Linked DNA regions of Homo sapiens. The protein of the gene in region 2 purifies or fractionates together with the protein of the main gene of each other region. This does not show direct contact. Each region holds a gene or a part of one and is shown on either strand. Other genes may lie near its edges. The genes, in order: WWC1 and USP24.

What was found.
Region 1: the proteins of USP24 (region 2) and WWC1 purify together in Homo sapiens (co-immunoprecipitation; one large-scale study listed by IntAct). This does not show direct contact.

What each region holds. Positions count from the first base shown.
Region 1 is NC_000005.10:168,430,884-168,434,907, forward strand, and holds part of WWC1 (protein KIBRA), read left to right. Parts: intron 1-368; coding exon 369-561; intron 562-4,024. UniProt on the Homo sapiens protein: Regulator of the Hippo signaling pathway, also known as the Salvador-Warts-Hippo (SWH) pathway.
Region 2 is NC_000001.11:55,208,865-55,212,364, forward strand, and holds part of USP24 (ubiquitin carboxyl-terminal hydrolase 24), read right to left. Parts: intron 1-3,500. UniProt on the Homo sapiens protein: Ubiquitin-specific protease that regulates cell survival in various contexts through modulating the protein stability of some of its substrates including DDB2, MCL1 or TP53.

The DNA.
Region 1 (4,024 bases), on a different chromosome or scaffold from region 2:
AGGGCAGGAAGGCGGACAAAACGGAAGGAAGACAAGATGGGATGCTTGGGTCAATTTCAGTCTTCTGCCCACACAGACAGTGCCAGGCTGAATAGCCTCCTCCATAGCTCACTGGTACTCATGCAGGGGCATCTGTGGGATAATGCCTAGAAGTGAAGGGTCTGGACCAAAGGACAAATGCATCTGGAATTTTGTTCGATTTGTCAAAGTTCCTTCCAGTGTATAGGGGCCTGATTCCCCAGATTCCTCACTTCTACAAACTCTCATCCACTGTTGTTTGCTTAGGGATTTCAGCAGCTGTTTAGTCCAACATTTTAGCCCCAGACATGGGCTGACCCAAGATTTCCTGCGGTTCTGTCTCCCTCTAGGAATATCCGCGTGGCTGTCCTTCCTTGCTCTGAAAGCACAACCTGCCTGTTCCGGACCCGGCCTCTGGACGCCTCAGACACTCTAGTGTTCAATGAGGTGTTCTGGGTATCCATGTCCTATCCAGCCCTTCACCAGAAGACCTTAAGAGTCGATGTCTGTACCACCGACAGGAGCCATCTGGAAGAGTGCCTGGTAAGGGCCGTGTCTGGCTGGCTGGCTGGCTGGCTGGCTGGCTGGCTGGCTGGCTGGCTGACCGGCCTTCTGTGTTTATGGGGATTGGTCTACCCTGAGCTTCAGGAAGAAGGTTCGAAGGAGACGCAGGTTGTGCTATCAATCAGGCTCATCTTGGATTCTAGGCAGCGAGGCTTCCACAGGTGAATGTTGTTCTCAGACTTAGGGTGGGAGGGAAGGAGCTCTTTCACAAGAGGAAGAGTAATGGACCTGAAAGTGCCTTTTAAAACTGCCAGAACCTGGAAAAAGCCACATACTGCAGCTTTACTATACAGCATGAGAGATTAGATAAGAAGCACAGACTATGGCTGTGTGGTGGCTTATATCTGTAATCCCAACCCTTTGGGAGGCCAAGGCCAGAGGATCACTCAAGTGCAGGAGTTCGAAAGCAGCCTGGGCAACACAGCAAGACCCCATCTCTACAAAAAATAAAATTAGCCAGGCATAGTGGTGCATGCTTGTAGTCCTAGCTACTCTGGAGGTTGAGATGGGAGGATCCCTTGAGCTGCAATGAGCTGATCATGCCGCAGCATTCTGGCCTGGGCAACAGCAGAACCCTGTGTCAAAAAAAAAAAAAAAAAAAGCACAGAGTAATGAAAGCAAACACATAGGCATTCACATCCCACCTTTACCACTTGCTGTATAGCTGGATGACCTTGGGCAAGGTACTTAACATCTCTGATCCTCATTTTTCTTATCCCTAAAATGCAAATGATAATGCCTCCATCATGCCCACTGGAAGAATCTTTATAAGGATTGAGATAGCACCCGTAAAACACCTATTCAAGTGTCTGATCCACAGTGGGTTCTCGTTTAGTGGGGCCATTGCCAGCCTCCTCCCTGAAACTGACCTTCTCCGGCTTCCATCTCTCACTGCATTGGCAGGAGTCAGGACTGGGGATGAAGTAGCCCAAGTACATTTTGTCCTAAGAGACAGGCAGACCCAAGTGCAGACAGATACTCAGCTTTCCCATCTGTAGAAGGGGGATTTATATAATAGCTAACTCGGGCTTGTGATGTACAAGTGAATTAGAAGAAGTAAAGGGCTTTGTTAACCCTGATGCCATTTAGTGTTAGAATATTTTAATGATAACTCAACTGTGGGCACAAAGGAGCCCAAGTGTGGGCATTATACCTAGAAGGTCGCTCCACTCATGCTCAGATCTGTACTGGGAGCTTGTTGTGTCCCCACCCCTGTGTCTGGGGCTGGGGATTCAATGGGGAACCAAACAGACAAGGTGCCAGCATTGATGGCTAAGATGTAAACAAACTGTGAGGAGGGCCGTGTTGGAAATGGATGGGTTGAAGTGATGGAGGAAAATGTGGGGTATGTGCAAAGGGGAAAAACAAGATGTATACACCTCTCCGAGCCTCTCCTGCCTCCATTTCTGGAAGCTGGAATGTAGAGCCTCTCACTGCCTTCTTGGAGGGCTCGCCCCTTTCTCCTGCTGTAAATCACAGACCTTTGCCCAGAGAAGGGAATCTCTTTGCTCTCCATCCTTGCCTTGATCTGCATGCGCTATAAAACCCTTCTCTATCATGGCATTGTGGGGCCACATCCTTGGATTGTGGCCTGGGGCTGTCACCAGCCTTGCCCTTCCAGCTGTGTCTCCTCACAGTCTTCAATTCTTAGTCTCAGTTCCCTTATCTGTAAAATCTGGCTCATACTGCCTTCCTGGAGGTGGTTCTCTGAAGACTAACTAAGGCGCTGAAGCAGCGCTTCAAACTGTGCCATGCACACAAGTTACCTGGAGCTCTGGCTAAATGCAGATTCTGATTCAGCAAGTCTGGAGCAGAACCTGAGATTCTGCATTTCTAATAAGCTCCCAGGTGAGGCCAATGCTGCTGGTTCCTGGATCACACTTTGGGTAGCAAGAATGTAGAGCAGCAAAGTGTTTGCAGTTTGTGCTCACTGGATATCGGTTCCCATCTCTCCTTCTTAGCTGGGTACAACACAGCATCACTGCTATTGATGTTGTTACTGACAATAATGCAGTAGTTAATACCAGTAGGTTGCAGTTTATATGGCAGGCACTGAGTTAAGCTCTTTACATGCATTATCTGTTTTTTTTATTTTAGACTGAGTCCTGCTCTCAGTCTCTGGAGTGCAGTGGCGTGATCTTGGCTCACTGAAACCTTCACCTCCTAGATTCAAGCAATTCTCCTGCCTTAGACTCCAGAGTAGCTGGGACTACAAGCGCCCACCACCACACCCGGCTAATTTTTGTATTTTTAGTAGAGGCGGGGTTTTGCCATGTTGGCCAGGCTGATCTTGAACTCCTGACCTCAAGTGATCCGCCTGTCTCCACCTCCCAAAGTTCTGGGATTACAGGTGTGAGCCACCACCCCAGCCCATTATCTCTATTGATCCTCACTCCAACCTTGCAAAATAGGTAGCGTATTCCAGTGGAGAAACTGAGGCACAAAGAGGTGAAAGACCTTTCCTGTCACAGTTAGGAAAGTGGCAGAAGCCGTATTTGAACCCCAGCAGGTCTCCCTCTGAAGTCCACACACGTCAGCGCCTCTGTGTTGTCTCTTTGCCAGCACAGGGCTCCCTGGAGCCCAGAGATGGGGGTGGTGACTTGAAGGGGTTGGCAAGCCTGGGCTCCTCCAGCGAAGCATTCCCTTGGCCCTGGGCATTCCTAAGCGAGAAGAGGCTCAATCCTATTTTCTTCTCCTAATTGGATGCCTTTTATTCCTCCTTCCTAATTGAAGTCTGGTCATTGCTGGTTGCCATGGCAGCAGCCAAAGCGCTCATCTCACTGTGGCTTGTCTCTGCCTGCGGCCAATGGGAAACCTCCTTTCCCATATACGGTGGGGACATGGAGTGTCAGGCTGTCGTATTCTGGTGGCTGGAGGAGGAGAGGAAGTGAGATGGGAGGAAAAAGGCCTGTCCTCTCCCACGCAGAGACTCCGGACAGCAGGATGTGTGGAATCCCCAGTCTGTTTTCAGCCAGGCAGCAACAGCATCTGTACTGAGTTGAGTCTATGTGTCTACCAGTGGGCTAAGAACTTCATGTGCAGTATCTCATTTAATCTTCGTGATGGCCCCAGGAAGATAAGGGATCAAGGCCCAGAAAGGCTAAGTAAGCTGCCAGGTCATCCAAGGAGAAAATGGCAAAGCCTGGATTTGAACAGAGACTCCAGCTTCCTTATGTGTAGCCATCTCACCATGCTACTTCTCAGGGGGTTACTATGAGTGTCTCTCATGTCCCCAGACCCAGATTACAGGTTTGGAGGAATACACAGCCCACCTTCCCAATATCGCAGGCAACAGTTCCACCAAATGCCCTGCATGGCATCACAGGGAGCCTAGTTGCCCACTGCTCTACTGCTGAGCTCAATGCCACCCAGCCCGGGCTCTCTCGAGCTAGCCTGCTTCTCAGGCCCCACTGACGTCCCATGGTTCACCATTACAACCGTT
Region 2 (3,500 bases):
GGCGGACGTTGCAGTGAGCCAAGATCACACCACTGCACTCCAGCCTGGGTGAAAGAGCAAAACTCCATCTTAAAAAAACAAAACAAAACAAAAAAAACCCAATAATGTCACCTACTATCAATATGAGCTTAACGAAAATTTTTATGTCAGTTGTGACTGAAAAATGTGATAACACTAAACAATAAAAATTCCTATGATAAAGAAAATGAAAAATACAAGCTTAAAAAAGGAAGTAAAACTCCCTAGAAAAAAAAGGGAGGAAAAAAACATTTACTCTTTTGAAAATGAAGCACAACTCTCTTAGTCGTACCTCTGCAATCTAGTATCATGACTGAAATGTCCTCACATCTGAATTTTCCAGGTGTCTGAAGCCTACTTCTTTATCCATCCAACTTCTTCTTTTTTTTTCTTTTTAAAAGGAAAACCTTTCTAAAATACATTAAACATTCCTGACCCTTCTTAAGCAGACCACACTGGAACCTCTTCTTGACTGTGACATCATTGAAAACACAGTTATCCTCTCAGGGCCATGAAACACATAATAAAGCTGTTTCAAATCACCCTACACAAATCGGCTAGTGTGATTTGGTTGAGTCGGCTTTTAAAGCTTTCCTGTTCCCTCCTTGACCACTAAGCTGCTACTGTCACTTCTCACTATTGTCAAATGAGCTTGTCTCTAAGAGCTCATCACCTTGTGTTTAGATTGCCATAAAACCATTCTAATTTGATAGGAAACCTAATATTGAAACTTGTTTGAACTGTATTTTTTGTTAAGTTTAAACACAAATGAAAGAAATGCATGAGCTTTAGTGCACTTAGAGCGCTTAGTGAGTGGAGTGCATGAGCTTTAATGCATGTACGAAGGTGTTCTGAAATGGTTCCATCTTATGTGTTTACTTCTTATTTCTCTCTGTGGTTCCATATAAGGAAAATTTCCAGGAAAACTGAACTCCAGATTTCAGATTCTACTAAATCTTTTTTAACATTTTCTTATTAAAAGTAAAAAACGCCCTCCTTCACACTCAGATCAAGTAAATGGTATATGATATTGTAGGCAGTAAGTATAAAAATACTTAAGTATATGGACATATTTTTCTATTAATGTTGAAACCTTTTCCTCAAATTGCTAAAACATTACAACATTTGCTTTTCTAACATTGAAATTGTTTTCAAAATTTAAGCTAACAATATTATTATGCTGTATAAAGCTGTCACAACCTACTATGATTTCACTAAAACCACACTCACAGACACACGAAAGGTACTCTCTTCATGCCAAATTACATTCATTCTAAAAGTGAATGGGCAGGTAATTACAAGGTGAGACTCCAACCATTAGATTAACTCACAGACCTAATTCCCAAAGGAGATATATATACATATACTGGATCAGAAAGAAATTCTTATTTAAAAATTAGGCCATGCTGATTCATCTTTAATTCCCTATTTTTATTTCATCTACTTTCAACTGATTTGGGAAATTATTTCATTTTTTTACTCTAAAGCCTTTAAAGGGCCTTTTTTTATTTACCAAATCACAGTAATTCATAAACCACAGGTCATGTACCAAATCACTAATAGTTAACTAAAAGCTACTCATTTGATATTTACTCCACACTCATACTAGGGTTGTTGTATTTTAGGAAAAGAATAACATGAATTTTACCATAAACCTTAATTATACACATTGACAGTATTACAATTTTAATCCATTTATAATTACCACTTACTACCAAAGGGGAACAAGAGAAATAGGAATGAGGTAAGTTAAGGAACTACAAATTAATATGCTTCTTATTTTTATGTGACTTAGATATATTAACAGCAGGACCAACTTTGGGGCTCTAAACTTAAAAAAACAAAAAAGCAATGAAATCTTGAAAGTACTCCTGACAAAACAATACCTCCAGAAAGAACATCCACATTAAAACAGGAACAAAACAAGGAGTTCACAATGTTTATCAGATCACAGTATTAAATGTCACTTCTGGGAATATTAATTAACAGCACTAGACAGCTAAGAAAGGTATTTCCTCAGTTAATATGAAATCTCCTTCCAAAAACTTCCATTTTAGTATTTTCTAAAGACAAACTTAATGAATAAGGTATTCATTATAGTATTAATGTTTGATGGTATTCCTTATGGATAAGGTACATTTCATAATTGTTAAGTTCTGTGAGATGCACAGGATACCTGGTTCAGATTTCTACTGATCCCCTGGAGAGATTACAAAGGCCCAACTCTTCCTGTTGTGTAGAGAACAGAACCAATTGGTACGCACTTGGCAGGCCAGAGTTTACATTAGCCATGCAGTAAAGAGTGAAGAATTCTGACAGGGGGGTGGTTAAAAATCAGAATAAGTTATTTAGAGCAGCTGTGAGAGCTCACTCTCTTTAATAATAGAACAGACTCTTATGTGCCGTGGAATGATTTTGAAGTAATGCTATTCAAAATCAAAACTGGACAGCTTCTCAAAGTCCCTTCCAGACCCAGAGACCAAGAACATTTACATCCAACAATACTAGTGAGAACCAAACACATCTCTTCTGCAAAACACTATCTTTACTTAATTGGAGGATATTAACAAGGTGGCTTTCTATGCAGTTGTGTGTTTTGCTAGATATCTGGGTCTTTTTTATCTGCATTCTCCTTGCTTCTACTGAACCGGAAGTTAACAGCTTTCACTGTTCAAATATTAATTTTTAAACCAAACCCTAATTACAGCAGGGCCTCAAACTGATTTACCTAACTAGCTACATGACCTTGGACAGTCTTTTCTTGTAAAATGAGAGGCTTGGACTAAGACCCACTAGAATGTAAACACCACGTTCTGTTCAACACTCTACTCCCTGCCCCTGGGACAGGAAGGCATTAAGAGAAAACCATTGCTATCCCCAAACTACAAATATAAAAAAACTTAAGTCATTTCTTTCTTTTCTAATCAATTAGATTTTATTCTGTTTTTCCCATTTTTAAAGAAGACAATGACACTGAAATGTCCTGTGCAGCAAATAGAAATGTATATAATTTAAAATAAGGTACTCAGTTTTTAGAAATAAAAAGGATTAACTATATAATAGCTGACAATCTTCACCCAGTTTTTTTACTCTTCTTCCTTCCCTTTAACCCATTACTGTGTCCCATTCCTTTTTCCTTTGAAAGAGAGCCCGAAAGAGTGCAGGACTTCAAGCAAAAGGGCCTGAGTACTAGCCCCACCTCTTCTATTAACTGACTCTGTGGGGACAAGCCACTTCCCCTTTGGGGCCCGAAAGGGTGCATCTGTTAAACAAGGGAGCTGCACTAATTATTAATTTCTAAAGTATGCTTCTTTTTAAAAAATCTGATTCACCTTATATTCTACCCATTATTCGATTCTTAATGGTTGGTGCTCACCACATCATTGCACAGTAGCCTTAAAATATGTCTTTCCCTCATTATTTCTCCTTACTATCCATACTGTTACCAAACAAATTTAATCCTAAAACCATGAGTTGAGCAG